Regions from separate parts of the Homo sapiens genome. Here all the other regions are linked to region 1. The links come from fine-mapping of genetic effects on gene expression. A gene starts in region 1. Each other region holds a variant in brackets. All regions are shown on one strand. Distances are from middle to middle.

Region 1 (5,361 bases):
CAAACTTCTGGGCTCAAGTGGTCCTCCCACCTCAGCCTCCTAAGTAGCTGGGACTACAGGTATGAGCCACCACGTGGGGCATGAGCCAGGCCTTTTTGAAGAGTAGAATTCTGGTTTTATATTTTAATCAAAATTATACCCATATTGATTAATTTTGCCGCTAATGAATACATTTCTCTACTATTTCATTTCAAATGTTTCTATTTTGCTCATTATATTTTAGCTACACAGGTCATTCCTTTTGAGACAGAGTCTTGCTCTGTCACCCAGGTTGAAGTGCAGTGGCGCGACCTTGGCTCACTGCAACCTGCACCTCCTGAGTTCAAGTGATTCTCCTGCCTCAGCCTCCCAGGTAGCTGGGATTACAGGCGCACACCACCACACCCAGCTAATTTTTGTATTTTTAGTACAGACTATGTTTCACCATGTTGGCCAGGCTGGTCTCGAGCTCCTGATCTGAAGTGATCCGCCCACCTCAGCCTCCCAAAGTGCTGGGATTACAGGTGTAAGCCACCATGCCCCACGGTCATTCCTATTTTTTAAAAATGTCAAGCACATTACTGCTCTAGGGCCTTTGACAGCTAATATTTACTGTGCCTGGGCTCTTCATATGGCTGATATGGCTGGTTCCTTCTCATCATTCAAGTCTCAGCTCAAATGTCACCTTTTGAGAGGCTGTCCATGATCATCTTATCTAAAGAGCTTGGCCGAGCATGGTGGCTCATGCCTGTAATCCCAACACTTTGGGAGATGGGCAGGTCACCTGAGGTCAGGAGTTTGAGACCAGCCTGGCCAACATGGCAAAACCCCATCTCTACTAAAAATACAAAAATTGGCCAGGTGTGCTAGTGTACGCCTGTAATCCCAGCTACTTAGAAGGCTGAGGCAGAAGAGTCGCTTGAACCTGGGAGGTGAAGGTTGCAGTGAGCCAAGATTGCACCACTGTACTCCAGCCTGGGTGACAGAGTGAGACTCTGTCTCAAAGAAAGAAAAAAAAGGGCGGGGGGGGGGGGCTCCTATCCCCAGGCTCTTTCACACTGTCCAGTTTTGTCCTATTAACAGTACTTGGCCGGGCACGGTGGCTCACGCCTGTAATCCCAGCACTTTGGGAGGCTGAGGCGGGCAGATCACGAGGTCAGGAAATTGAGACCATCCTGGCTAACACGGTGAAACCCCGTCTCTACTAAAAATACAAAAAATTAGCCAGGCGTGGTGGTAGGCCCCTGTAGTCCCAGCTACTTGGGAGGCTGAGGCAGGAGAATGGCGTGAACCTGGGAGGTGGAGCTTGCAGTGAGCCGAGATCGCACCACTGCACTCCAGCCTGGGCGACAGAGGGAGACTCCGTCTCAAAAAAAAACAAAAAACAAAAAACAAAAAACAGTTCTTAATCATTATCTTGTTTACCTCATGTACCCCATTTGAATATACATTTTATGAAAGAAGAGGCCTCGTTGTCTTGCTTAGAACTAATAGCCGCTGGCACATGGAAAATGGAGACCTGGAAAGGTTAAGAGACTTTTCCAAAGTTGCACAGCTAGTCAGTGTTGGGGCCCGACTTCATGGCTCTCAATTATGGGCTCTTTTTGTTAAAACATAGCTACTTTGGCAGGGTGCGGTGGCTCACGCCTGTAATGCCAGCTCTTTGGGAGGCCCAGGCGGGCGGATCACGAGGTCAGGAGTTCGAGACCAGCCTGGCCAACATGGTGAAACCCTGACTCTACTAAAAATACAAAAAATTAGCCGGGAGTGGTAGCAGCCGCCTGTAATACCAGCTACTCAGGAAGTTGAGGCAGGAGAATCGCTTGAACCTGGAGGCAGAGGTTGCAGTGAGCCGAGATCGCGCCATTGCACTCCAGCCTGGGGGACAGATCCTAAGTCTCTCCTAATAATGCTTTCTGCATCACACACACACACACACACACACACAAAGTAGTCCTTTTTTTTTTTTTTTTTTTTTGAGATGGAGTCTCGCTCTGTCACCCAGGCTGGAGTGCAGTGGCGCGATCTCAGCTAACTGCAAGCTCCGCCTCCCGGGTTCACGCCATTCTCCTGCCTCAGCCTCCCAAGTAGCTGGGACTACAGGCGCCCGCCACCACGCCTGGCTAATTTTTTTGTATCTTTAGTAGAGACGGAGTTTCACCACGTTAGCCAGGATGGTCTCGATCTCCTGACCTCGTGATCCGCCCACCTCGGCCTCCCAAAGTGCTGGGATTACAGGCATGAGCCACCGCGCCTGGCCTAAAGTAGTCTTTTATCCAACTCCTAATCTATATTTCTGGTAGAAGTAATCCAAAAATCAAACTAACACATGGTACACTTTGTTATTGACCAAAAACTGACTGTAAATTGCATCTTGTTGCTAACGTTGAGAATGGCAAAAACTGTCCCACACCCATGAGATCTGTCTGAAAACCTAAACTCAAATCACTGGCAAAATAAATGTGTGGCTGACTGAAGCGATGTAAGTACCAACTCTTTTTTTTTTTCTTTGAGACGTAGTCTCGCTCTGTCGCCAGGGTGGAGTGCAGTGGTGCGATCTCGGCTCACTACAATACTCCGCCCGCGTTCAAGCGATTTTCCTGCCTCAGCCTCCCGAGTAGCTGGGACTACAGGCGCGGGCCACCACGCCCGGGTAATTTTTGTATTTTTAGTAGAGACGGGGTTTCACCATGTTGGCCAGGATGGTCTCGGTATCTTAACCTCGTGATCCGTCCACCTCGACCTCTCGAAGTGCTGGAATTACAGGCGTGAGCCACCGCGCCTGTCCGTAAGTACCAACTCTTCACAAAATTTAGATCTGTTAAATAACACCAGTGAAAAACGGGCTAACCAGAAACAATGGTCACCAAAGAAACCCTCAACAGCAGAAGTTACAAGTAATAATTTTATATGGCAAAAAAAAAAAAAAAAAAAAAAAAAAAGAGAAACGAAACCCTGGGAGACGAATCATACTGCAAATCATATCCCTGGGTAGCAGGGCAGAAATACAGGTAAACAAAATAGAGAGGAGGGGGATGCCTCTAGCCCGGAAATAAGTGGGTGGTGGAGATGGTTCTTCTGGCCATATTCGTTTACCTTTTTTGTCAGCAGAAAAGTACTGAGTCTACAAAGTAAAAAACTGACCACGATGAAAATTTCTGCAAAGTAATTAAAATGGGAGAAAAATGGAAATGGCTTAAATACTCGGTATAAAAAATCGACCAAGGAATCAAATGGGCTCACGGATTTGCGTCAGAAACGTTGCTTCCCCGATAATTGGTCAACGTCGGTGTAACTATGATTAAAATGTCAGTATTCAAACAAGGGCTCCAACACTACCGTGGCCCAAGGGCGTCTTCGGCTCCCACCCCGGGGCGTGGGCCTGGGGGTCCCTCTTCACTGCGCAGCCACCTCTAGCCCGCCGCTTTCGGGACTCTCAGCCTTCTTTTCCCTTCCCTGAGGGCCGGCCGGCACCACAACGGGGCCAAAGGCAGTAACTCGGTTGAAAGGCGCGCCCTGGGACAGGTCAGCGGGCTCCGCCATGCGCGGCACGCATCCCGCAGGAGCGGGTGCCAGAGCAGGGTAGGCCGGGAGTTAGCAGCCCAGCCAGGCCGCTGGACTCGGGCTAGGGGCGGGGCCAGCGCAGGGGGCGCAGGCGCACACCGCCTCCGCGGCAGCATGGCGGACGCAGCTCCTCAACTAGGCAAGAGGAAGCGCGAATTGGACGTGGAGGAGGCCCACGCCGCCAGCACAGAGGAAAAGGAGGCAGGAGTTGGAAATGGTACCTGTGCTCCTGTCCGCTTACCGTTCTCCGGCTTCAGACTGCAGAAGGTGCTGAGGGAGTCTGCGCGGGACAAAATCATTTTCCTACACGGGAAGGTACCAGGAGGCAACCCTGAGGTGGGATGCGGGAAGCAGTGAACCAATCATCGCCTCGGAGGCAGATTTTTTTTTTTCGGATCTCGGCTGGAAAATACCAATCATTATCACTCCGGGGAGGCGGGAGTGCGCCACTAGAATGCATAGAGGGGCGGTGAAAGGCGGCAAGATTGCCTTTGAAATTAAGGCAATGAACACATCTAGCTCTAATTTTTCTAATGTCTCCACTAGAAATATCTACTGGGAGAGTGCATTGCAGATTAAAGATCACATGTTACATTCCCCAAGCCATTCATCATCCATTTATGTATACAGGGACTAGGAACCCAGTCAATGTTAGATGTCTCGCTCATCCCTGTCCGTGGAAACGACATGAGACTGTAGGAGATGTGATCTCTGCCTTACGCGACTTCAGCCGTAACAGGAGAACAATATATTATAATTGTTAATTCAGTTCTACGCACGCACTTTCATGCATGCCAGACACTAAACTAGGTACTGGGGATGTGGAGACGAAAGTTACCATCCCTGATCTTCAGGACTACGGAATATTTCTGGCGAGACAGATACACACAGCTTGCTCCAATACCAACGTGCTCAGCAATCTGGCAGGGGCTGAGGAGAGATGGAGACCATTCCAGGAACTAGTGAGGAGGCCTAGCCAGAGCAGATATGGGGGTTCCCCAGAAACTAGTGAGGAGGCCTAGCCAGGGCAGATAAGGGGGTTCCCTAGAACTACTAGCAGGAACTCTCACCTTTGGGAGGATCAGGGAACCTTGGCCTAGGCTTCCATGCCTCTGTGTGTATCTGGTTTTTAAATTTTTATTTATTTATTTATTTATTTTTGAGACGGAGTCTCTCCTCTCTGTCACCCAGGCTAGAGTGCAGTGATGTGATCTCGGCTCACTGCAACCTCTGCCTCCCGAGTTCAAGCTATTCTACCTGCCTCAGCCTGCCCAATAGCTGGGATTACAGGCCCCCGCCACCATGCCCAGCTAATTTTTGTATTTTTAGTAGAGATGGGGGTTTCACCATGTTGGCCAGGCTGGTCTCGAACTCCTGACCTCAGGTGATCCGCCTGCCTCTGCCTCCCAAAGTGCTGGGATTACAGGCGTGAGCCACCGCACCCGCCTTTTTTTTTTTTTTTTTTTTTTTTGAGATGGAGTTTCACTCTTCTTGTCCAGGCTGGAGTGCAATGGCACTATCTTGGCTCACTGCAACCTCCACTTTCTGGATTCAAGTGATTCTCCTGCCTCAGCCTCCCAAGTAGCTGGGATTACAGGCATCTGCCACCATGCCCAGCTAATTTTCGTATTTTTAGTAGAGACAGGGTTTCACCATGTTGGCCAGGCTGGTCTTGAACTCCTGACCTCAGGTGATCCACCCACCTCTGCCTCCCAAAGTGCTGGGATTATAGGCATGAGCGACTGCGCTGGGCCTTGTTTTTTGTTGTTTTTTGTTTGTTTGTTTGTTTGTTTTTGTTTCTTGTTTTCTGTTTTTTTG
Region 2 (6,159 bases), 64 kb before region 1:
GTTCAATCCACTTTTAATATTTACATTATTACGACTGTATAAGTAGTATTCATAGCTGAGCCTAATGCGTAACGATTATGTTTCCTTTCTTGCCCATTTTTTTTGCTTATGTCATTAAAGACTGTCTTTTTTGTTTGTTTGTTTGCTTTCAATGTATTCTCACATGCTCTGACAGAAGAATAAATCTCCTAGCTATACTGAAACACACCGATAACTTGCTGGTTTGTGTCATGGATTCTTCCTTCTGGATGCTAGTCCACTCTGGACACTTGTTCTCCAGTCCTGTTGCGTTCCTGATATTTGCTATTTCCCATTCCCATCATCCTGATAATTTCCTTTACATCTCTCCTGTATCGATTCTCTGTTTGCTGGATCTCATGTCCTCTTTTTTGGTGCACGCCTTTGTTTTCCTGAAGCATGTCCTTGCATAGCCTCCTAAGTAAGGACCCATAGGAGAAAATTATTTGGACATATTTGAAAAGGTCTTTATCATACACTTACATTCATTTGATGGTTTGACTGAGTATAGAATTTTTAGTATCTCTCATTCATACTCTGCTAACATCTAAGTATTCCTGCCAAAATAGCCACTCTGTTCTGATTCCCAATCCTTTGTATTGTATGACCTCTTTCCCTGTTTTTTGTTTTGTTTTGTTTCATTTTTGTTGTTGTTGTTGTTCATTAGAAGCTTATAAGGATCATTATTTTATTCTCAGTAACCTGAAATTTCACAGTGATGTATCTTGTCATATGAATCTAGACACCGGGCAGCTCTTTAAAGCTGGCAACTAGTACCTTCACTTTGGAGAAGTTGACTTATATTACTTTTTTGATACTTTCCATTACAATGTTTTTTCTATTCCACATTTTTTTAAAACTCTTGTTATTCAGATGTTGGACTTCTTGTATTAAGTCTCTAATTTTTTATGTGTTGCTTTATTTTTTTCCCCCCCATTTCGTTTTCTTAAATTTAGCTTTCTCGGGGGTTCTCTGTTTTATCTTGTGGATTTAAAAATTTCTGTTGCGTTATTTTTGATTTATGAAGTCTTTTTGTTTGTTCATTTTTTCATAGCACTCTGTTTATGTTTCACAGATGCTTTTTTTTTTTTTTTTTTTTAGACAGAGTCTCACTGTCTCCCAGGCTGGAGTGCAGTGACACTATCTCGGCTCATTGCAAGCTCTGCCTCCCGGGTTCACACCATTCTCCTGCCTCAGCCTCCCGAGTAGCTGGGACTACAGGCGCCCGCCACCATGCCCGGCTAATTTTTTGTATTTTTAGTAGAGACGGGATTTCACTGTGTTAGCCAGGATGGCCTTAATCTCCTGACCTCATGATCCACCTGCCTCAGCCTCCTAAAGTGCAGGGATTACAGACGTGAGCCACCGCGCCTGGCCTTTTTTTTTTTTTTTTTTTTTTTGAGATGGAGTCTCGCTCTGTTGCCCAGGCTGGAGTGCAATGGTGCAATCTCAGCTCACTGCAACCTCTGCCTCCCGGGTTCAAGCAATTCTCCTGCCTCAGCCTCCTGAGTAGCTGGGATTACAAACGTGCTCTACCACACCTGGCTAATTTTTATTTTATTTATTTATTTATTTTTTAAATAAAGACAGGTTTTCACCATGTTGACCAGGCTGATCTCAAACTCCTGACCTCAAGTGATCCACCTGCCTTGGCCTCCCAAAGTGCTGGGATGACAGGCGTGAGCCACCCCACCTGGCCAATTTTAAAAAAATCTAGGCCAGGCTCGGTGGCTCACGCCTGTCATCCCAGCACTTTGGGAGGCTGAGGTGGGCAGATCGTGAGGTCAGGAGATCGAGACCATCCTGGGTACCTGGGTAACATAGTGAAACCCTGTCTCTACTAAAAAAAAAAAAAAAAAAAAAAAAAAATTAGCGGGGCGTGGTGGCGCGTGCCTGTAATCCCAGCTACTCGGGAGGCTGAGGCAGGAGAATCACTTGAACCTGGGAGGCGGAGGTTGCAGTGAGCTGAGATTGTGTCACTGCACTCCAGCCTGGCAACAAAGCTAGACTCCGTCTCCAAAAAAAAAAAAAAAAAGAAAAGAAAAAATATATGTGAGGATATCATTGTTTTCTTTTAATTTTTTTTTCTCCTTCCCATACTATCTCTTATTTCCTTCAGATTTCTCTCTACCTGCTAGTTTGTTTGGTATAACTGTTATGTTGGGGGCTTTCCTCAGATGTGAGGTGACCCTTGTTTGTCTGCCCATTTTTAACAGAAAACACCAAAAAGCCAATGGAAGAGGCCGGGTGCGGTGGCTCACGCCTGTAATCCCAGCACTTTGGGAGGCCAAGGCAGGCGGATCACTTGAGGTCAGGAGTTTGAGACCAGCCTGGCCAACCTGGTGAAACCCCGTCTCTACTAAAAATACAAAAATTGGCTGGGTGTGGTGGCACGTGCCTGTAATCCCAGCTACTCGGGAGGCTGAAGCAAGAGAATCACTTGAACCCAGGAGGCAGAGGTTGCAGTGAGCCAAGATTACGAGATTCCATCTCAAAAAAAAAAGCCAGTTGGAGAATCTGTGTGTACATAAGGGGCTTGGTCCCAGACTCTATGTAGAGTTAAGGAATTCCCACCTGTCAGAATCTGCAGGTTTTTCATCTCATACTGGCCATTTTCCTGAAAGAGGAATCGTCCTCATTTCCTAACTGGATGGGGGATAGGGGTGCAGGTACAGAGTTGATTCCTAGAGTCTGAAAAGCTTCCTCTGGGGAAAGAGAGTTGGGGGAAATCTTGTATTTTATATACAGACTTTTACTTAATCCCCACCCTCAGCTGTGTGCAGTGTTCTCAGATATAGTCCTCTGGTCAACCTCTGCAGAAGGGAAACCTCTAGCCTGCTGAAAGTTGTAACTGTTAAAGGCTTGTAACTGATTCTCCTATTTTAGCCCCACCAGCCCCTCTACCTTTAGATGTACATGAACATTCCCAAAATTCTACCAAGGGAATCGGCCTTTGCATTACAATTGGTAAAATGTTGTTGCCCTTTGACCTCTGTTGTCTGCTGTCATCTTTACCTAGCCTACTTTTTAGGTATATATACCCGCTAAAAAAAAAAAGTAACTATTATTTGGTGGTTTACAAAGAACCAGTAATAAAACACAATTGTTAAATGTTTTATTTTTAAGTGGAAGTCTTTTTTTTTTTTTTTTTCGAGACAAGGTCTTGTTCTGTCACCCAGGCTGGAGTGCAGTGGCACAAACACAGCTCACTGCAACCTCAGCCTCCTGGGCTCACGTGATCCTCCCGTGAACTTAGCCTCCCAGGTAGCTGGGACTACAGACGTGCCTAATTTTCTTTTTCGTTCTTTCTTT[G/T]TTTGGCAGAGATGGGGTCTCACTAAGTTGCCTAGGCTTGTCTCAAACTCCTGGGCTCAAGCTCAGCCTCCTAAAGTGCTGAGATTACAGGCATGAACCACTGCACTTAGCCAAATTGGAAGTCTTAATTAGGAAGAATTATAGTTCAAATCTGTATGTTATATAAAAAAATACAGTACAACAGTATAAAATGAAAAGTAAAAAGTCCTTATTCTCTGCTATCCCCATTTAACCACTATTTATACATCTTGTGAATCCTAGAAATTTTCTATGTGTGTGTATATTTGTTTATGTGGATTTGTGTATGCTTCACTATCTTGATTGCTCTGAACTGAAACTCATTTTTCATCATTTGCTTCTAACATCTATTATTAATGTCTTTTCTAGTAGACTGATCTTTCAAGATCAGGGACTCCATTTTGTTCATGGATACATGACTCCCGTAGTGTCTGGTACATACAGGTTTTCCTTTCCTGCCTCAGCCTCCCTAGTAGCTGGGACTACAGGTGTGCGCCACCAGACCCAGCTAATTTTTGTATTTTTAGTAGACACAGAGTTTCACCATGTTGGCCAGGCTGGTCTTGAACTCCTGACCTCAAGTAATCAGCCCACCTTGGCCCCCCAAAGTGCTGGGATTACAGGCGTGAGCCACTGCTCCTGGCCTCGGTTTTTCATATTTGTTGAATGACTGAATGCAGAAGCTCGGGTTAGGGAAAGCAGTTTTAGAGGCTGTGTCCCCAAAACCAGGTTTCCCAAGGCTTGAAAGTGCTATTCCTTTCTTGAGTTATGCCAAAATGCTGATCCTCTCCATTTTATTATTTAGACAAAAAGGTTGGGGAGAAGCCATTTTCAGGGGAGGGGAACATGCCATCAGCAAAAATTAATGTGAAGGAACATATTTCAAGCAGGGATAGTCTCCAGAATGAAAGAGAGGGGAACAAAAACAAAAATTAGCACCCATGCTGTCTCACATATGGGCCTCAGAACAGAGAAGTCTGTCTCTGCTTATCATGGTAAGAAAGGAATGTTTTTCACTTTTTGTCATGTCCTTTGATTAGTTAATGTCTTTATTTAGGTATGTAGGGCCCCTGTGTTTTCAGAATTCTATTGGCCACTTTTTTTTTCTTTTTTTTTTTTGCCTGAGGTTAATGTTTACAAAATTCAGAATTAAATTTTGTATTGCCTTTCCCCTAGTGTTTTACATTTCTCAATAATAGGAACTTAATTTGTCCTGGGGTTCTTTTCTCTTTTTCTAGAGTACAAATCAAACGTCTTCTTTTGAAATTTAATACTGGTTTAAAATATAATTTAGTTGGCAGAAGTCAGCTGAGCTATAGTCTATTTGGATCTTTTCCTAATATTAGTGGAATTTCTTAGGTTGAGAGGACTAGGAAGGGAAAACTGATTTTAAGATTGGTTTTGGGATTCCTGAAATAGGTTTATGACTTGTTTTTCAGCAAGCACTGACACAATATTCTGGTTGTTTTCTTTAAACTGCTTTGGAAAGGTGTCAAAAACTGCTGTTCATCTTCTTTGCAACTATAAAAGTTAGCTAAAAACTGTAACCTGAGTCAGACAGTCTTTCTGTGTGCCTCATATCTATTGGATATTCCAATCCTCTCATTTGTTTTGCTTTTATAGGAAGCTGCTTCCAAGCTTAAAAACTAAGAAGCCTCGAGAACTTGTGCTAGTGATTGGAACAGGCATTAGTGCTGCAGTTGCGCCCCAAGTTCCAGCCCTCAAATCCTGGAAGGGGTTAATTCAGGCCTTACTGGATGCTGCCATTGATTTTGATCTTTTAGAAGATGAGGAGAGCAAAAAGTTTCAGAAATGTCTCCATGAAGACAAGAACCTGGTCCATGTTGCCCATGACCTTATCCAGAAACTCTCTCCTGTGAGTACCCTAGTATGTGCCACAGTATTTGGAATTTCCTAAAATTTAACTATCACAACTAGCATGATTTGGCTGTCAAAACTAGCATGCCAAATGTAACAGGGATATTCATTTACAGCTTGTAGGTTTCCATAACATTTGACTCTTCTGCGCAATGTCTGTTTATGGACCCTACTCAGGACAGTTGTCTTAACCCCATTTCACTGTGTGTCTATGAGAGAGAAATGATGTTGAGGACTTTATATGTACAAATTACCACTGTGTTTTGAATTTATTTTTTTCCTGCATCACTACTATAAAAGCTGTGTTCTGTGGCATCCATGCCTTGTATGGAATCCCACAAAGATTGGAGATAATTTTATCATTTTATACATGAAACAAAACCAGTTTTTAGTGTTCTTTTTAGAGGTAATAAGTCAAAATATTTAGAAGGAATTGCACCTTATTTTACCAAACTGAGTTGGATAAAAGGACTCCCTGTCTTGCTTTGTCTGAAAATTTATTTATTTATTTATTTATTTTTTGATGGAATCTTCTTCTTGTCACCCAGGCTGAAGTTCAGTGGTTCGATCTCGCCTCATGGCAGCCTCCGCCTCCTGGGTTCAAGCGATTCTCCTGTCTCAGCCTCCTGAGTAGGTGGGATTACAGGCATGTGCCACCATGCCCAGCTAATTTTTGTATTTTTAGTAGAGACAGGGTTTTGCCATGTTGGTCAAGCTGGTCTCGAACTTCTGACCTCAAGTGATCTGCCCACCTCAGCCTCACAAAGTGCTGGGATTATAGGCATGAGCCACTGCACCCAGCCTGTTTTAAAATCTTAAAAATCAGGCTTCTAGGGCCAGGCGTGGTGGGCACCTGTAATCCCAGCTGCTCAGGAGGCTGAGGCAGGAGAATGGCTTGAACCCGGGAGGTGGAGGTTGCACTGAGTTGCGGTC
Region 3 (6,159 bases), 110 kb before region 1:
TGGCAGCTGTGAGTGAGTGAGACCAGGCTTGGCAGCTGTCTGTTAGCAACGGAGTTGGAGCATCCCACCATGGGGGTGATGCCCACAGCCTGAGTCCCCTTCCAGCATGGGGAGCCCCTGATTCCAAGGGGGAGATTCTCGCTTGACCCTCAGAGTGGTGTTGCATGCATGAAGTGATGACCACATGCCCCTTAAAGCCAACTACAGAGAAAGTGGGTGGATGGGTCTGGCCACCACAAGCTCCTCGGAACACAGGCTGGAGGTCTGGGATGAGGGGCCCAAGGCTGTCCACCTGGGCGGCAGGGAGGCCCGAGAGGACAAGAACCAGCCCCAGAGAACGGAGAGATGAAAGAGGTGATGAGGACAAGCTGGCGTCTTCCCGGAAACCTGGATGGGAGAGGAGACAGTGCCAGCCGCTCTCCCCGTGGGCCTCCCCCCTGCTTGCTCTCTGACCTCGCTGAGCACATCAAAGCGGGAACCCCTTCCCCCAGGCTGGCTCCCTGAATGGCCCAGGTCATCACTGGCTCCTTGAAGCTGCTGATGGACAGATGGTAATCGCTCCCAGCCTGCTGAAAGAGGACGCGGCTCCAGGTCGGAGCTGGGCCTCGGTGGGCTCCCTGCATGGGAGGCTGTCTTGGCTGCCCACTTCTCGGTCCCCCTCACTGCTCCCTGGGACAGTCTGGTTAGCTTGCCTTGGGGAAAGAGGGTGCTCGGGTAGCTCTGATGCTGGGGTTCAGAGGCCCACAGGCGCAGCAGGTGAGATGTGCAGAGACCTAAGGGGTCTGAGGACCCCTCAGTCCATGTCAGACAGGCCGTGGGAGCGGCAGAGGATCCTGCAGGAATGGCAGGAGTGAGGCCTGCCCTGGGGAAGTTCGTCACCCAAGAACAGCAGAGGATGAAGGGAACAGCCGGGGCTGGCACTCACACACTTACGTGTCGAAGACACATCATTGTAGAAGAGGCATCCAAGCTGTCACTCTCTTACTTTCTCTCCACTATTTAGTAAATAATGCAGGGAAATAATCCATTTACCTGATTGTGCTTAGTGAAAATTGTACATAACTATCAATTAGTGCATCTGATCAGCAGAGATAGCAACTTATTACTACCTTAAACCAAAATTAAATCAGCAAAGAGCTAAGAATGCTTGACGTTTAGCTACACTGAACTCACGTAGTGGGTAAATGCCTGTTCCTATTAGGCTTTTGGGTAGTTGAGGACAGCTTGACTATATTTTCTACATTTTTATAATGAACATGTAACACTCTTCTCACTGAGTGTGTAGGGATCAAATTCTATTTCAACTTCACTCAAAGAGCCCAAAACATGACCTCCTACTACTCCACCCTACACGAGAGAACAGAAAACCCAGCGTCAGGCTAGCTAAAAAAGTAGGGGGCCGAGATTTACAACGCTGGAGTAGCCACGGTGAGGGTTATCAGGGGGTTAGAAAAAGATGGTAAGGCTCTTGTGCGGGATACTTCATACTTGATTAAATCATGTTCCCATTTTTTGTAGCAGCTTAGCCTGGAGAGGGATAAAAGCTGGAGTACTGCTGCCATCCGGTGGCAACATTAGAAAATGCATTTTACTGCGTTCATATTAATACAGTAATAAAACTACATTTTACCCTATGAAATTGTCTATATTTGACCCAGTGTAACCATCAAAAATCACAACTTACAAAAAAATTACACTTGGGAAAGAACAGACTTCAACAAATGGTGCTAGGACGGCTGGCTACCCAGTCAAAATTGGACACCATCGTTATACCACACACAGAAATGATTTAAGATTATAGACCTAAATCTAGAAAACTCTTAGACAAAAAAAACAGAAGGAAATCTCCAAGACTTTGTATTAGGTGATGGTTTCTTAGATATGACACCAAAAGCACAAGCGACAAAAGGAAAAATTGGACATCAAAATCGACAACTTTCCTATTACAAATAATATAATCAAGAAAGTGAAAAGACAACACAAAGGGAAAAAATATTTGCAGACAATACCTCTAATAAGACAGTGGTATCCAGGCCGGGCGCAGTGGCTCATGCCTGTAATCTCAGCACTTTGGGAGGCCAAAGCAGGCGGATCACTTGAAGTCAGGAGTTTGAGACCAGCCTGCATGGCGAAACCCCATCTCTACTAAAAATACAAAAATTGGCTGAACATGGTGGTGCATGCCTGTAAACCCAGCTACTGGGGAGGCTGAGGCAGGAGAATCACTTGAACCCAGGAGGCGGTGGTTGCAGTGAGCCGAGATCACGCCACTGCACTCTAGCCCAGGCAACAAGAGCGAAACTCTGTCTCAAACAAACAAAAAAGTGGAATCCAGGATATATAAAGAACTCCTACAAATTAATAATAAAAGCAAATAACTGAATTTAAAAATGGGCAAAAGATTTGCATAGATATTTCTTTAGGATGTATAGTCACCAAACACATGAAAAGATGCTCAGTATCATTAGCCACTAGTGAAATGCAAATCAAAACCACGGTGAGAAACCACTTCACATCCACTAGGATGGCTGTAATCAGAAAGATAGGTAATAACAAGTGCTGGTGAGAAACTGGACCCCTCATACATTGTTGCTGGGAATGTAAAATGGTGCAACCCCTTTGGAAAACAGTCTGGCAGCTCTAGAAACAGAGTTGCCATACGACCCAGCAATTCCACTCCTAGTTAGGTACCCAAGAAGTTAAAATACACATCCACATAAAAGCTTATACATGAATGTTCAAAGCAGCGTGATTCACAATTGTCAAAAAGTGGAAACAGCCACCAACTGATGAATCGATAAACAAAATTTGGTATATCAATACAATGAAATATTATTCAGCAATATAAAGAAGTAAAATACTGGCCAGGTGCTGTGGCTCACACCTGTAATCCCAGCACTTTGGGAGGCCGAGGTGGGTGGATCACTTGAGGCCTGGAATTCAAGAGCAGCCTGGTCAACGTGGCAAAACCCTGTCTATACTAAAAATACAAAAATTACCCGGGCATAGTGGCACACGCCTGTAATCCCAGCTACTTTTGAAGCTGAGACACGAGAATCGCTTGAACCCAGGAGGCGGAGGTTGCAATGAACCAAGATTACGCCACTGCACTCCAGCCTGGGCCACAGAGCGAGACTCTGTCTCAAAACAAAAACAACAAAAAAAGAAGTGAAAGAGTGACATATGTTACATTGTGAAGGAACCTTGGACACATGACACTAACTCAAAGAAGCCAGTGGCAAAGGAGCACATACTCTATCATTCTGTTTGTATGAAACATCTAAAATAGGCAAATCTATAGGGAAATGAGAATCCTTCTATTTCCAGAAAATAGATTAGCAGTTGTCTACGGCTGGGAGTGGGAATGGGGAGTGACAGCTTAGTGGAAGCCAC[C/T]GTCACATGTTGCATAGAGGACCGTGTCAGCCGCCTCACTGGTCTCCACACTCCTGTTTCCTGACAAAGCATTCTGCAGTCCTCTGCTGAAGGTCTGATGGAGTGAGCCAGGAGTAGGCAAACAGCCCAATAGGTGTGGAGGGTGGTTAGTCCTTGAGAAATCATATGAACAATGCAGGGGTTCGGGATGCAGATACATCTAGGAGGTAGGGGCATGTGTGTGGACAGATTTGACGGTGGTGAGAAGGCAGGGGCCAGCTGAGCCTTCGGGGTGTATCTGACTAAGTACAAGTCACCATGGCCGTGCCCTCACAGCATGTGAAAATACCTGGGAAAGGCCGGGCACAGTGGCTCACGTCTGTAATCCCAGCACTTTGGAAGGCCGAGGCGGGCGGATCACCTGAGGTCAGGAATTTGAGACCAGCCTGGCCAACATGGTGAAACCCTGTCTCTACTAAAAATACAAAAAATTAGCCAGGTGTGGTGGCAGGCACGTGTAATCCCAGCTACTCGGGAGGCTGAAGCAGGAGAATCACTTGAACCCAGGGAGCGCAGGTTGCAGTGAGCTGAGATCACGCCATCACACTCCAGCCTGGGGACAACAGCAAAACTTCGTCTCAAAAAAAAAAAAAAAGAAAAAAAAAGAAAATACCTGGGAAAGAAGAACTTCACCCATCTGTATAATCACCCCTGATTAAAATCCCTTTCCCACTGCAAGGATGGCAGCAGATGACAGTGTTCCACAGCAGGTGCCAGGAGGGAAGTGAACAGAAATATCTCAAGGCTTCTTGCCTGAAAGGATCCTAAGGCCACAACCAACAGGGGCATCTATGCAGACAGCCACCTAGGCTGGTCACTCGCTGGGGGACAGCAAGATGAAGGGATCCCTAAGAGAGGACATCAAGAGACGCCTAAGGGAGTGGGGGATGGAGAGGAAAACTCAGAGTTCTATAATAATTTGCCTTGCTTTCGTCCTTGGTTCCTGGGAGAGAGAACCTAAATCCTTGGAATTTCCCAAGTGATGTTAACATTTTTTGTTATTCATGATGAGCCCTAATAGTTTACGCTATTAAATGTGAGGACTCACGGTGGGGCTTTAGTTTCAGGATGGGTAGTTTCAGGCTGGCCATGCAAAAAGACCGACCATGTGATTAGAGGGTTGGCACTTTGAACCCAGCAGAACCGAGTTCAACAATGTAGCCAATTGTTCAACCACGACAACATAATGAAACCCCAATAAAAACTCTGGACACCAGGGCTTGGGTGACATTCCTGGCTGGTGATGCACATCCATGTGTTGGGAGGGTGACACGGTGGGCAGAGGACACGGTAGCTTCATGCTGGAGACTCTCCCAGACCTTGCCCATGCATCTCTTCTTTTAGCTGGTCCTGATTCATATCATTTTATTGCTACAGCAAAACCATAATAGTAAGCATAGCTAGTGCTTTGCTGAGTTCTGGGAGTCATTCTAGTGAATGATCAAACCTGAGGGGTTTGTGAACACTCTTGAATTCATAGCTAGTTGGTCAGAAGTACAGGTGGCTGGAAAACCCCAGAGCTTGCAGCTGGTGTCTGAAGTGAGGCAAGTCCTGTGGAATGTGCCATTAACTTGTGACATCTGGCCTAACGCTGGGTAGCTGGTGTTTGAATTACATTGCCCTGAGCCAGCAGATTTTGCTCCGCACTGGGAGAAGCTGTCTGCACCCACATGGCATGCTTTGCACAAGCACAAGCAGGAGGCCATGTTTTTGTATATCCTACCAGGCACTCTGGCTAAAAGCAGTCCAGAGAGCCAAGGAGAGCAGACCTAGAAAACATGGTGGGAGGCTGCTCTATTTGCCTGTCTTGTTTAAAACAGGTACCCCCTCCCACACTGCTCTATCCCCAGGAACCTGGGGATGGTCTCAACACCCCGTTGTGAGTTTGGTTTCTGGTGGGAACTAGCAGGTTGCCTATGATCCTATTTCTAACCCACTATGCCCTTCCACCTCCCAGACCTATCCCATCATAGCTGAAGGGTGGGGACGGTGAAATTGGTGCTCAGGAGATATTAGAATTAAAGAGGGAAGTGCATTTTAAGAGAAGGGTTTTAGATGGAACTGGCAAAGAATTAGTGGCTAATTGGATTTGGGGACTGGTGCGAGGGAGGAGTTAAGGGTGATTCCCAGGTCTCTGGTGATGCCATCTAAACTAAGGCAGGTAAGAGGACAGGAGCAACAGGCCCGGAGAGGGAGCTCCCAAGGGGAGACGATCACAGGCAGATGGATGTGAAGATAAGGAGCTCAAGGGGGAGATCAAGGTCAGAGACAGACTAGCGAGTCGTCAGCACACAGGTAGAGGCTTCCCAAGTTGGCCCAGCTCTCCCTCTGGGAGAGGGGCAGGATGCCAAGATGGAGCTCTGGGGGGCACCATGCTGGGGCCCTTCAAGGAGCCTGGAAGGAGGTCAGACAAGGAGATGCAGGAGGAGTTCATGGAATCAAAGCGAGTGAGGAGCTCAGAGTGGGCAATTCGGTTATCAAATGCAAAGACGTGTGATACGAGGATTGAGAAAGTGCTCTGTGGGCTTATTAGGTTGGGCATGCCTAGCACAGAAAAAAACCAGCTACCCAAAAGCTGCCTCCTGGAGCAGAAGAGCCAGTGCTGCCACCAGAAGGGGCACTGGGAGAGCCGGCCTCCCCCCTCTGCTGAGCACAAGCACCTCCCAGAGCTCACAGCAAACAAAATCCCTACGTGGGCAAGGAGCTGCTGCTTTTCATGGCAAGCCT
Region 4 (6,159 bases), 180 kb after region 1:
TTATCATGCTGGGTATTCATGTAGCCAGGCATTATTGATTGGTCTTCGCTTCACTGCACACCAGATGGGGGTGGGGGCTGGGGGGGGGTGGGGGTTGGTGAGGATGGAGGATGTTTGGGGGCCAGCAGGCTGAAGAGAAATCAGCAGTCGCTCTTGGCAGCTGTGTCTGGCGTGGAAGGGGGCTCCTCATTACCTCCCCATTCAGACTCGGCCAGGCTGGGCCAGGCAGTGGCGAGGGGAGGAAGTTTCAGAGTGGTCCCCGCTTGGAGATGTATTATTCATCACCCCCTCGCAGGATTGGTTATTATCCTCAACCACTATAGAGTTTGGGCTTCTAATTTTTAATCACAAGGAAGGTGGAGGCGTTAGCCTTTTCGTGATTAATCCGGAGATAAAAATAGTTGACTGTTTTGGTGTTGTGCTTGTTGTCAGTCAGGAAAAAAATGGCATTAACTGTTGGGGCACTGAAGCCTGGGGAGGACTGAGCGGATCCCAGGCAGAGTGGGTCCCCAGAGCTGGAAGCCAGCCTAAGAGGCCACAGCGCGGCCTTAGCCGGGGGTGGCTGAGCGACACTCCTGCACCCAGCTGGCTCCTGGGGCATTGATTATGAAAGAAACACATCATCGCGGGATGCTGAGCTCTTTACAGTTTACTCTCCCATTGGCCAGGACTGGAGCAGGCAGCTTCAGTCTCCCTCCCTGCTCTGCCCCTACCTGCCCAGCTCTGCAGACTTTGCCTTGTTTGGGTGGGCGGTGGGGGTACCCGTCCCTTTCCCTGTGTGTGGGAGGGAGCCCCCAAAAGCTTTCCCCAAGTTCTGCTGCCAAAGACAATGGGGTCTCGGGTGGACAGGTGGCATGGGGAGAGGGAAATTGAGGCCAGAGAGCACAAGAGGCTGACCCAAAGTTACCAGTGACGAGAGCAAAGAAGGGTGAGGGTGGGCTTGGGACGCACATCCTGGCTGTAACTGGAGAGGTAAAGCTTTCATCTATTTCACGCACTAAGGTTCTCTCTAACCTCTATACTCCCCTTTTTTTAGAGACAGTTTGCCAGGTTGGCCAGCCTCGTCTGAGCAGGCTGGAAAAACTCTCTTGGTGCCAGGACAAGGACAGCACTGAGGGAATTTCCTCCAGTGTCCACTTGGTCACCCAACTGAGACCTGGCTGGGCTTCCAGGAATTCCTCGATGCTCCATCAGCCTGGGATGGTTGGTCTCTGAGCATGGCTGATCGGTGGCAGCTGGAGGGGTGGGGGACCAGCAGCACCACCCTCCTGCCCCCATACTGCATGGTGGAGAACCTCATAGACACCCAGCCCTTTGGAGAGCAAGACTGGTTCTCATTTGACTCAATGAGCAGCGAGTTCCCCACAATGCTGGCAGAGTGGGTCTATCACCAACACCAAACCCTCCAGGGGCTTCCCGCTGAAGGAGAGTAGGTGTTGCCTGCAAGCACCAGCACTTACGGCCCTCGCTGCCCCTGGGGCCTCGGTCTGTTCCAACCACTCCTTACACAGCAGACCCTGGCCCCACTGCGTCTCTGCTGCTCAGCAAACCCAGCTCCTTCCGGGGCCGGGCTTGCCCTGCTCCTCTCTGTCTGTAACGCTCTTTCCTGTTCCTCACTCTGCTGGCTCTTCCCGTCAATGAAGGTGCAGCTTCAAGAGCCCTTCAGTGACTCTCCACTACCCACCCCTGCACTTTCTGGATCACTGGGTTCATTTATTATCTGTCACCGTTCTAGAAAGGACAACAAAGACCTTATCTATCTTGGTCATTGTGATATTGCTGTATCACACAGTAGGCGCTAAAGAAATATTTGTTGAATATATTATTTGTTAAATAAAAGAATCTCAGAAGGGGAGTGGGGATGGGGCCGGGGGGACGGTTATCATGGGCTTTGGCTTCTGAGGTCAGCGTTTTAAATCTTGTGTGTGTGTATGTGTGTGTGTATATATGTGTGTACATGTGTGTATATGTGTGTATGTGTATATATGTGTGTACACGTGTGTATGTGTATATGTATATGCATGTATATGTGTGTATGTGTGTATGCGTGTGTATGTGTGTATGTATGTGTATATGTATATATGTATGTGTATGTATGTGCATGTAGATGTACATGTGTGTATACATGTGTATGGGTGTGTGTATACATGTGTATGTAAGTGTGTGTGTGTATATGTGTGTGTATATGTGTGTTTGTGTGTGTGCATGCATGTGTGTGTGCATTGGGTACAGTTGGGAACGGGCTGCGTGAGTAGTGGGAGGGAGGAGGGCAAAGCAGGAGCCCTTCTGAGGCCAGCTGGGACAGCGCTGTAGGAACTCTGCGCTGCTGTGGCATCAGGGTTGGTGCTCCCTGTCTCTCCTCGAGAGAGGGAAGCCTGGCTGAGGGGGGCTTGGTGCTGGGAGCTGATTCTCAGCCTGTTTCTCCGTGGCTGCTGTCCTCTGATTTGTCTGGAACATAGGATGGGAGAGGGCGGCAGGCCGAGCATGGTGACAGATCAGAGACACTTGGCTGAGTGGGGAGAAGGACGTTTGTGGGTTCTTTGATTTTGTTCTGCCGCAGACCCAGGGGCTCTGGGAGAGTCAGTGCTAGGAGTTCCAGCACTGACTACAGTGGAGGGAGGATGCCGAAGCCTCGGGGTGCATCTCCCACACCTTCAGCATCTTCTCCATCCCCAGGTTCCCCGCTGCAGCCCTGCAGTCAGCCTGCCATGTGTCCTGCCCTCCTGCCTCCCTCCCTCCCAACCTTTCTCTCACCAGCCTCCTCCATGTCACAAGCTGAGGCTATGATAGCTGAGTGAAGCCATACACGGCCTGCCATCTTAGAGCTGATGGGGAGGCCCTTGCCACTCCAGGCCAGTGCCCAAGACGGACATGTGTGCAGCCTTGGCACCTCCTGGGAGCTTGTTAGAAAAGCAGACTCTTGTGCTCCACCTCAGACCTCCTAAGTCAAAATCTGCCTTTGAAAAGACCCCAGACAATTCACATACATTTTCAAGCTGGAGGAGCGCTGCTCTAAGGGTTCCGAGGTAGAAATCATGACAAACTGACAAGTGCTATGAAGGGAAGGCTCACTGGACAAAGAGCACGTGTGGGGACCCTTGATCCCTTCACAGGCTGCCTGCTCCCTTCGCTCCCCCGGGGCCGGCCAGAGAAAGGGGCAGACTGCTCCCTGCTTACTAGCTTTGGAGTTACACGATCTTGTTTCAGAACAGCTTCCTTTGTGTATGCCGTTTCTTTAGCTTGGAATGCTGGCGTTCTCCTGGACCACTGGTCTTCTCCTGGGTCACTCTTACACACCCTTTGAGACTTAGTTCAGAGGGCACCCTCTCTGAGCGGCCTTTCTAGAATCTGCCAGTTGGGCCAAGTGTATAGGGCTTCTGTCTATGATCCCACAGCATCCTGGGCATCCCCTGACTCACTAGCTACCACATCCTATGGAAATCTCTCTGTGTGTGTCTCTTCCCTGAACCATGATCTCCATCCGGATCCCCATCTCCCAGCAGAGTGCCTGCCTGCTGCACAGGGCACAGGGTGGCATATGCATTTGCTGAGCTGAACTTGACTTGAGTCGATCACTTTATGAGCCATATGATTGTAGACAAGTTATATAATCCGACAACCTTAATCCTCTTATCTGGGAAGTGAGATAATAAAAATACC[T/C]ATCTTGCAGGGTTATCATGAGGATTACCTTACAATATGAAAGATACACAGAGAACATTGTAAAAGGCTATACAAATGTAGGTTATTATGTCTAATTTTTAGGAATAATATTTAGGTTTGTGGCTGTGTGAAAAGTGCTGAGCCAAGGTCCTCTCATTTTATTCTCAATATCTTTTGAGGCAGGGACTATTAGGGTCTTCATTTTATAGGTTAAGAAGCTGAGACTCAGAGAGGGCAAATTACTTGGCAAAGACCACACAGCCATAAGTGGTGAAGTTGGAATTTAGACTCGAGATTTTGACCCTACAACATGTTCTGTTGGAGTTAGAGCAGCTCCCAGACTATCCCTGCAGCTGCAGCAGCCCTTCCACTAACCCCTGCCTTTGTCCTGGCCCTAGAGCTCTGCGAAGCGGGCTCTCTGCCTGTCCCAGGGGGCATTCAGACCTGGCAGGTACTCTCCTCCCTTCCCTCCCCGCAGTCTGAATTTCAGAGGGCCCCAGGAAGCATGAGCCTGGCTCGCAGTTGGTGCTTTGGCGATGTCTGCTAAGGGAACGGACGAATGTTGTTTGTAGTCCGCCCAGCTCTTTGCTGCCTTTTGTGGTTTTGCCCGGTTCTCTGGTTCTGGGCCGCGTGTAATCCCAGCTTCCGGTTTCCTCACGTATACAGATGCGCCACCTAATGGCCACAATGGAGAACTGCAGGATGTAGAGACAAGAGGGAGCTGACCTGGTTTTAAGAGTCAGCTTCCCAGTGGTAGCCGAACAATGTTTGGAGAAATTCGTATTGAGCACCTACTATACGCCAGGCCCTTTCTAAACACTAGGGACAAGAAGCTTCTGCCCTAGTGGAGTTTACCTTCTAGTGGGAGAGACAGACAATAAATGAATACACAAATACATACATAATACAAGGTTAGGTGTTGATAAGTACTAGAAGGAAAGTAACACTGGGCAGGGAATAGATACATCCTAAATTGGCCTCCGGGATTCCCTCCTGGCTTTTCTCCTTCCTCTCTGGTTGTTACTTTTTGTTTTCTTCCCACCCCTTAAATGCTGGTCTTCCCTAGTTAGCTCTTGCTGGCCATATCTCATTTGACACACTATCTAATGGAAAACCTTCACTTTTCTGTGAACTCAACTCACATCTTTAAGCTGACGAATTCCAAAGAAGCATCTCAGGCCAGACCTCTCTCTTGAGCTCCAGAGTCATGACCCAACTGTCCACGGGCCTTCGAAGCTCAGCAGGTGTGACACCACACCCACCGCCTCTCCCAGACACCCATCCATCCCCATATTCTGTATTTTGGAGAATGGCCCCACTGTTTGGGGACCAAGTCAGAAATCTGGGGGTCTTTCTGGATTCCACTCTCAGTCACCCTGTCTTGCCAACTAGCCTGGTTAACCCTCTGAAGTATCGCTCAGATTTGTCTCTTTCCATTCCCACAGGCTTCCTGGATCAGCCATCATCCTTTTGTGCTTGGATTACAATAGTGCTTCTCCCCTCCATCTCCTAGTCCTCTGTGCTTTTCCAGAGTGACTGTTACAGAAGTCTGAATATTCACCTATCCAGTCAACCAGTAATTCACCCACCATGTGCTGAATGTCTAGCATTCCTCTGTTTCAAATCCTCTGAAAGTCCCTCATTGCCATCTAAATAGTCTGAACTTCTTGGCCACTGCTGACTCTTCGGCCTTGCTTTTCATCACTTCTTACCTCAATTCCTCCTTGTGGATAAGAGCCACCTGCATTTGTTGGAGTAAATCGCTTTTCCCCAATTGCCCCTTTCCATTTTTTATTTATTTATCTTTTTTGAGACAGAGTTTCACTCTTGTTGCCCAGGCTGGAGTGCAATGGCATGATCTCGGCTCACTGCAACCTCTGCCTCCTGGGTTCAAGTGATTCTCCTGCCTCAGCCTCCTGAGTAGCTGGGATTACAAGTGCCCACCATCATGCCTGGCTAATTTTTGTATTTTTAGTAGAGATGGAGTTTCACCATGTTGGCTAGGCTGGTCTCGAACTCCTGACCTCAGGTGATCCACCTGCCTTGGTCTCCCAAAATGCTGGGATTACAGGCATGAACCACCGTGCCGGGCCTGCCCCTTTCCTTTTGCTTTGCTAACTTGAAGGTCGGGCAGCTTGGGTTTGAATCCTGGGTGCTATGTTTACTGGCTTGTGGCCATGGGAAAACTGCTTAGCTTCTCTGTGCCTCAGTGTCCTTATTTGTAAAATATGAATTAAAATAACAAAACCAGATTCACTGTATAGTTGCCAGGGTCAAGGAAGATGTAACATGAGAAAATGCTTTGTAAAGGGTCTGATGGATGATGTGGCATGTTATTGGTTCTCTAAGCAGACTGGGCTCATTCCTTTGAAAGGCGATAGACGGGCAGGGGAGCTGGGACTTAGAAGTCCCAGATTGCCCCCTTGGTAAAGCAGAGGTCTATGTCCTTTTCCCTGCTTTGCCCTGCTGGGAGCTGGGTGAAGACCCTGCTGCTCCCAT
Region 5 (6,159 bases), 31 kb after region 1:
AGGAGTGCAATGGTGCAATCTGGGCTCACTGCAACCTCTGCCTCCCAGGTTCAAGTGGTTCTCCCGCCTCAGCCTCCTGAGTAGCTGGGATTACAGGCATGCGCCACCACGCCCGGTTAATTTTGTATCTTTAGTAGAGATGGGGTTTCTCCACGTTGGTCAGGCTGGTCTCGAACTCCTGACCTCAGGTGATCCGCCTGCCTCGGCCTCCCAAAGTGCTGGGATTACAGGCGTCAGCCACTGCGCCCGGCCTTTAAGCCATATTTTCAGCTTTGGGTCCAGAAAGCCACATACCTAGAAATTTGGTATGTGAGAAGAGTTAGAGACCTCTCATTCCTGTGCCTGGAAGATGGAGCAGGAAGGGCTGGGGTTTGCCTGATGAGGGGCCCAGTGACCCACAGGTAAGAACCTTGTGTTTTCCAGATTCTGAGTGTGGCTCAGCTCGTGAATGCAGTGGCACAAGGCACTCTGTGGGAGTGGATCTTGGGTGCATGATCCTCTTGGATTTTGGCTTCCCTCAGGGAATCAAAGCCAGGGTGGGAGTTCTCTCCTCACCGTGGTGCCTGTGGCATAGAGAGTGGGCATTGCTTCCCTGTCACGGGCTGTGCTGTATCATTGCAGATGTAAAGACGACCGTGGTTTACCCTGCCACAGAGAAACACCTGCAGAAGTACCTGCGCCAGGACCTCCGCCTGATCCGAGAGACGGGAGATGACTACAGGAATATTACTTTACCCCACCTGGAGTCCCAGAGCCTCAGCATCCAGGTGACTGGCTGCATGTCTCAGACGCAGAGCACTGCTCCCGTGGCTGGTGCCTCCTCTTACGAGTGTCTATTGGGGTCATATTAGGGGCCAGGCGCTGTGCTGGGCGAGGGGATGGGGGTACAGTAGAGAGCATGGCGGACAGAATCCCCACCTCGTGCAGCTTACATCCCATGCACAGTCACACGGTGTGTGACCATACACAGATATCTCAGGATCTATGTGCTCTGTGAGATAATGAGGGCTGCAGAGAGAAATAGACAGGATAAGTGGGACCAGAAGGCCTGGGGCGGGCAATTGCCATTTTATATCGCATGGCGAGAGAAGGCTTTGGGGGTGGGGGAACTGATGCTGGTCTTGGTCCCACCTGATGTGCTTGGGCATGCCATGGAGGCTCTCTGGGGACCTCAAAGCAATCCAGTCCTTTGGAAGAATGTGTGTCTGCTCTGCAGTAGCCTTGATCCAGCCTCGGGATGACTGTGCCATTGCTTTGGGTCCATGAATGGGTAAAAGGCTGATGTTGAGTGAGTCCCACCCTGTCCAGACTCTTATTCCTGGTTTCACCTGCGGCAAACCGGCCTGCAGGATCTCAGTCTCAGAGGAAAAACTCTTCCCTCACCGACTCCCCCTTGCATTCGTCCAAAAGAAGGCAGGACCCCATTGGCCCCGGGGATTTGGTGCAGGGACTCCATTCACAAGCTGGCAGTCGTCTGGCCAGGCCAGATGCAAGGCCATTTAGCTCCAAGATCCTGACTCCTCCCTGGGCCTAGGCCCAGCGCCAACTGGAGCCTCTGCCTGGAACTGGCCCCATGTGAGTACTCAGAGTTAAATATGACTGATGCTTATTGATGAGTCAGTTTCTTGCCCACTCACTGACTCTGACACTGTGCCTTGTCTTTATCACTCACCCTTGTTCTCTTCGAGCATTTCTCACTTTTCTCCCCAAGATTCAGGTCACTGTGGTGGAGGGTGTTGTGATGTGAGGAACTCACAGCCACTCCTCCCTGGCCCAGAAGAAGGGAGGGTACGCTGTGTGTGTGGGCACTGCAAGGTGAATTGTACTTGACAGGAGTAAGGAAAGGGAGGCTGACAGGGCCTGCAGGAATGAAGTTTCCTTGGGAGACCTGTGTGCCGCCAGCCCCCTTCCCCAGCCTGGTTCAGCCCTGGTCTCCCTGGGCAGCAGTTTGCGTGGGGTGCATCTGGCTCAAGCTGACTTGTTTGTTGTTGTTGTTGTTGTTTGTTTGTTTGTTTTTAAAGTCCCAGCACTTGTTCTGTTTTCCAAGTGAAAAGGAACTATATCTCCACCTTCTTAGAGTTTCTGCTGTTCAGGGTCCTAGGGAATCTCCTGGAACAGTTGTTCTGTTGTGCTGGTTGTGCAGACCTGAGATTCAAGTAAGGAAGCCCTGATGTGGTTGGTGTGAGTAGCTGGGATTACAGGTGCTTGCCACCATGCCTGGCTACTTTTTTGTATTTTTAGTAGAGATGGGGTTTTGCCATGTTGCTCAGGCTGGCCTCGAACTCCTGAGCTCAGGCAGTCCGCCTGTCTTGGCCTCCCAAAGTGCTAGGATTACAGGTGTGAGCCACTGTGCCTGGCCATGTATATTCCTTATTATATACCATTATGCAGTTCCATTCGGAGAAGAGCACAATGAAAACTCCACTACTCTTCCAACTCCTGACTGACGGGAGCCGTTCATGTATTCCTTCTTGGCTATTTCTAGTTTACAAGCACTCAGCTTAACTGGCAACACTCATTATGTTTACTGAGTACCTACTATGGACCTGGTCCTATGCCAGGCTTTGGAGAGTCACCAAGATGATGAAACCTAGACAGGATCTTCACAGTGTAACAGGGAAGATAGACTTGTAAACGGGCAATTGTGACAATGGGATAAGCACTCTGATGCCTAGACGAACTACCGTGGTGATGCAGAGGGACAGTGACCAGCGCAGACAGTTGGGACTTCACAGGGAGAGGATCCTCCCCTTGGGTCTTACAGGACAAATAGAAGTTTACCAGGTGCACAAGGGGAGGGAGGAGCAAGTCCAGAGGCACACAGAGCTGGAATCATCCGATGCTTTGGGGGAGCTGCAAGGAGTTTGGTGTGACTGGGGCTTGGGCTGCTGGAGGGTCAGAGGAGACAGCACTGAGATGGTAGGCAGGGGCCAGGCGGAGGCACGTGGACTTTGTCCAGGGGGCCAGGAGTTCCTGAACCTTGCTTACCATCAGGATTGCCTGGGGGTTTTCATAAATACCGAGCACAGAGCACTATTCCATATCTGCTGAATCTCACGCTTCAGGGAGTGGAGCTGGGAATTCTCTCTCTCTCTCTCTCTCTCTCTCTGATATTTCTGACAACCATCAGATGTGAGAACAGTTGCCATAGGCAGTGAGGGTGCCCTAAACGGTTTTAAGCATGTGGATGATATGGCCCGATTTGCAGAATTAATTGGTGGAGTGGGGGTGA[G/A]CATAGAACAGGAAGACTGGGAAAAACCAGTATGGGTCTGAACCAAGGTAGGGACAGTGGGGAAGGATTCTGGAGCAATTTAAGAGGTAGGTCTTCACAGGGCTGGATGGGGCTTAGCAACTGATTGACGTGCAGAGGGGAGGGAAGAGGTTGGGTGATGAGTGGATAGAAGGATAATTCATGACCCAGTATAGGGGACAGAAACAGAAGAGTGGGTTTGCATGGAAGACAGTGAGTTCAGTTTGGAATTCATTGAGCACTTACTATGTATAGTCCAAGAACTGCTCTAAGCATTTATGCGCATCACACCTCATTTATTTATTTATTTATTATTTATTTATTTTTGAGATGGAGTTTCACTCTTGTTGCCCAAGCTGGAGTGCAATGGTGTGATCTCGGCTCACTGCAACCTTCTCCTGCCAGGTTCAAGTGATTCTCCTGTCTCACCCTCCCAAGTAGCTGGGATTACAGGCGCCCGCCACTATGCTGGGCTAATTTTTGTATTTTTAGTAGAGACGGAGTTTCACCATGTTGGCCAGGCTGGTCTCAAACTCCTGACCTCAAGTGACCTGCCCACCTTGGCCTCCCAAAGTGCTGGGATTACAGGTGTGAGCCACCGCACCCAGCCTCACACCTCATTTATTCTTCACAGCAGCCCTTTTGGAGACAGGTCTCAAAGCCAGGCAGTCTGGTCCCAGTATCTGTGCCCTAAGCCAGAGATACTATTTGGCTCCTTAGATGTGAGGTACTTATAACTTCCCAGTAAAAACTGCAGTGGGATGTCTGGATCTGGAGCCTTTGAGATCATCTAGTTACAAATGTCTGTTTGTGAGTCATCCAGCTAGACTTCAACCTCAGCCTGGTGTTTGGATTCTCAGTCTGTCATCTAAGAGCAGCGTGACATTGTCCTTAATTTCGGAGCCCTGGTTTCCTTGTCTGAAAAATGTAACTAATGGCTCCTCCCTCCTGGGTGTTGTGGAAATTGAGAGAGGTGCCATATATCATGTGCCTGCTATTGTTTCCAGCACAGAATGATGCCAGGATGGCAGCCACCATCCCCTACTCTAGGTAACTGTTCAGAGGGACAGGCACAGCAATGGGCAGAGCTAAGACACCTGGGAGACGTGGCCAGGCCACACATGGCTGGAGGGGAAGTGCAAGGCAGCAGGCAGAAGCAGAGAGCAGGAGGTGATGAGGAAGGAGCAAGATGTCTCACGGGAGGTCAAGGCGGGAGAGAGGGTACCGAGGGAGCTGCCAATGTCACCTACTGCAAAGAAGTCCAGCCAGGTGAGTTGCAGAAAGCTGATGGCATCACCCTCTGCCCAGTTTATCAGCAGGGCTGGCCAAGTTCTTGGGCATGGTTTCAGATGGTGGCACTCCCCATTACATAGCTCTCTGTGTTTGTGTGAATTTTGTTCTTTCATTCTCCTTTTTTTTTATCTGGGCCCCTGGCCTGGAGGCTTCCCGTGGATGCAGCTCCCTGCCACTGTCCCAGAGGCCTCTCCCAGGAGACAGGATGTACCTTGGCCCAGGGTGCAGGCTCAGGAGCCAGATACTCATGGTTGGAATTGGCTGACCCAGCGTGAACTTCCTTGCACTTGCATTCTTCTTAACTGTAAAATGGGGACAATGTCCAGGCGCGGTGGCTTATGCCTGTAATCCCAGCACTTTGGGCCAAGGTGGGCAGTTCACTTGAGGTCAGGAGTTTGAGACCAGCCTGGCCAACATGACGCAACCCATCTCTACTAAAAATACAAAAATTAGCTGGGTGTGGTGGCACACGCCTGTAATCCCAGCTTCTTGGGAGGCTGAGGCAGGAGAATCACTTGAACCTGGGAGGTGGAGGTTGCAGTGAGCTGAGATCACGCCATTGCATTCCAGCCAAGTGTGAAACTCCGTCTCAGAAAAAACAAAAAACAAAAACCAACAAAAAAACCTGTCTCTACTAAAAATATAAAAATTAGTCGGGTGTGGTGGTGGGCACCTATAATCCCAGCTACTGAGGCAAGAGAATCGCTTGAACCTGGGAGGCGGAGGTTGCAGTGAGCCGAAATCACGCCACTGCACTCTAGTCTGGGCGAAAGAGCAAGACTCCATCTCAAAAAAAAAAAAAAAAAAATGGCGACAATGATAGCAGCCACCTCTCAGGGTTGCTGTGACGCTGAGAGCAGTGCCAGGCAGAGTGCAGCTGCTCTCACAGTCATCACTCCTTCCTGCAGTCACTCGTCCTCCAGCCCCGCTCTTATTTCCTCTCTCACCACCTCCTTTGCTCTCACCGCCTTTCCCTCTTTTCCTGTCCCCAGTCAGTTTTGTAGCCTCTGGCATACCATCCCACCACCTTTGCCACTCGTGGGGGTCTCCCTTATACTGGCTGTGCTAGGTGCTTTCATGTGCGTGTTCTCTGAAAACCTTCACCACCCTTATGTAGATATCATCAGCCCCATTTTACAAAGGAGGCATCAGTCGCTCACCCAGTGACAGCTGGGAGATGAAACCAGGTCTCCTTGGCTCAGAACCTGTTCACTCTCACTCTTATACTAGTCACAGGCAGATGCCCCTTTTCTGTGAATCAGGGACTGGCCGTGGGGAGGCCTGCTTATGGGGTGCGTTGGGGCTGTCTGTAGGGAATGCCGTCTCCCTCCCTCCCTTGTATTTCCGCTGGCTTCCTCTGGCATCACATTCCCAGGAGATTTCAGGTCAGAGAGGAAATGCCTCTGTGGATGTACTGGCCATGCATTGCTCTGGCCCCGGCACTGCATGAGGAAGTGGCTGCCAGGTGTCCTCCAGACCCCTCCCAGGAAGGGGCCTCATTCGGTTTCTTGGGAACTGCCTGTCTTTTGTTGTGAATGGACCACATTGTGACCGGCCTGTGGGTCTTGTCAGGGGTTTGGGGCCCTCTGAGCTGAAATGCTTCCTGTGGGTAGAGA

Which allele goes with the higher level. Alleles are on the strand shown, and positions count from the first base shown. SD is a standard deviation of normalised expression in the study named. Not every link is listed here.
As copies of T replace C in region 3, the expression in lymphoblastoid cells of the gene that starts at base 3,637 in region 1 goes down (moderate effect, 0.46 SD a copy in TwinsUK).
As copies of T replace C in region 4, the expression in transverse colon of the gene that starts at base 3,637 in region 1 goes down (small effect, 0.33 SD a copy in GTEx).

What was found. PIP is the estimated chance that this variant, and not a neighbour inherited with it, causes the effect. A credible set is the group of variants that fine-mapping cannot tell apart.
Region 2: its variant is the best candidate, but not a certain one, in a credible set for the expression of DCPS in blood mononuclear cells (TOPMed, PIP 0.52).
Region 3: its variant is the best candidate, but not a certain one, in a credible set for the expression of DCPS in lymphoblastoid cells (TwinsUK, PIP 0.86).
Region 4: its variant is the best candidate, but not a certain one, in a credible set for the expression of DCPS in transverse colon (GTEx, PIP 0.65).
Region 5: its variant is the best candidate, but not a certain one, in a credible set for the expression of DCPS in fibroblasts (GTEx, PIP 0.78).

What each region holds. Positions count from the first base shown.
Region 1 is chr11:126,300,424-126,305,784 of GRCh38, forward strand. DCPS (decapping enzyme, scavenger) reads left to right here and starts at 3,637. Exons shown (of 6, transcript NM_014026.6): 1 at 3,637-3,858. The coding sequence starts at 3,658. TIRAP-AS1 (TIRAP antisense RNA 1) reads right to left here and starts at 3,899. Exons shown (of 2, transcript NR_187388.1): 1 at 3,765-3,899. RefSeq lists a silencer at 3,595-3,724.
Region 2 is chr11:126,235,821-126,241,979 of GRCh38, forward strand. It overlaps FAM118B (family with sequence similarity 118 member B), which reads left to right. Exons shown (of 9, transcript NM_024556.4): 4 at 4,972-5,224. It also overlaps a transcript of SRPRA not described here. Among named protein-coding and RNA genes, the nearest start is that of FAM118B, 27 kb to the left of the region's middle. The variant G/T (reference allele first, on the strand shown) is at 3,331.
Region 3 is chr11:126,192,752-126,198,910 of GRCh38, forward strand. No RefSeq gene overlaps it. Among named protein-coding and RNA genes, the nearest start is that of RPUSD4, 16 kb to the right of the region's middle. The variant C/T (reference allele first, on the strand shown) is at 3,394.
Region 4 is chr11:126,476,586-126,482,744 of GRCh38, forward strand. All of the region lies in intron 4 of KIRREL3 (kirre like nephrin family adhesion molecule 3), which reads right to left. Among named protein-coding and RNA genes, the nearest start is that of KIRREL3-AS1, 64 kb to the right of the region's middle. RefSeq lists an enhancer at 2,313-2,814. The variant T/C (reference allele first, on the strand shown) is at 3,661.
Region 5 is chr11:126,330,784-126,336,942 of GRCh38, forward strand. DCPS (decapping enzyme, scavenger) reads left to right here. Exons shown (of 6, transcript NM_014026.6): 3 at 622-767. Among named protein-coding and RNA genes, the nearest start is that of GSEC, 22 kb to the right of the region's middle. RefSeq lists enhancers at 2,365-2,866, 3,995-4,496, 5,644-6,159. The variant G/A (reference allele first, on the strand shown) is at 3,233.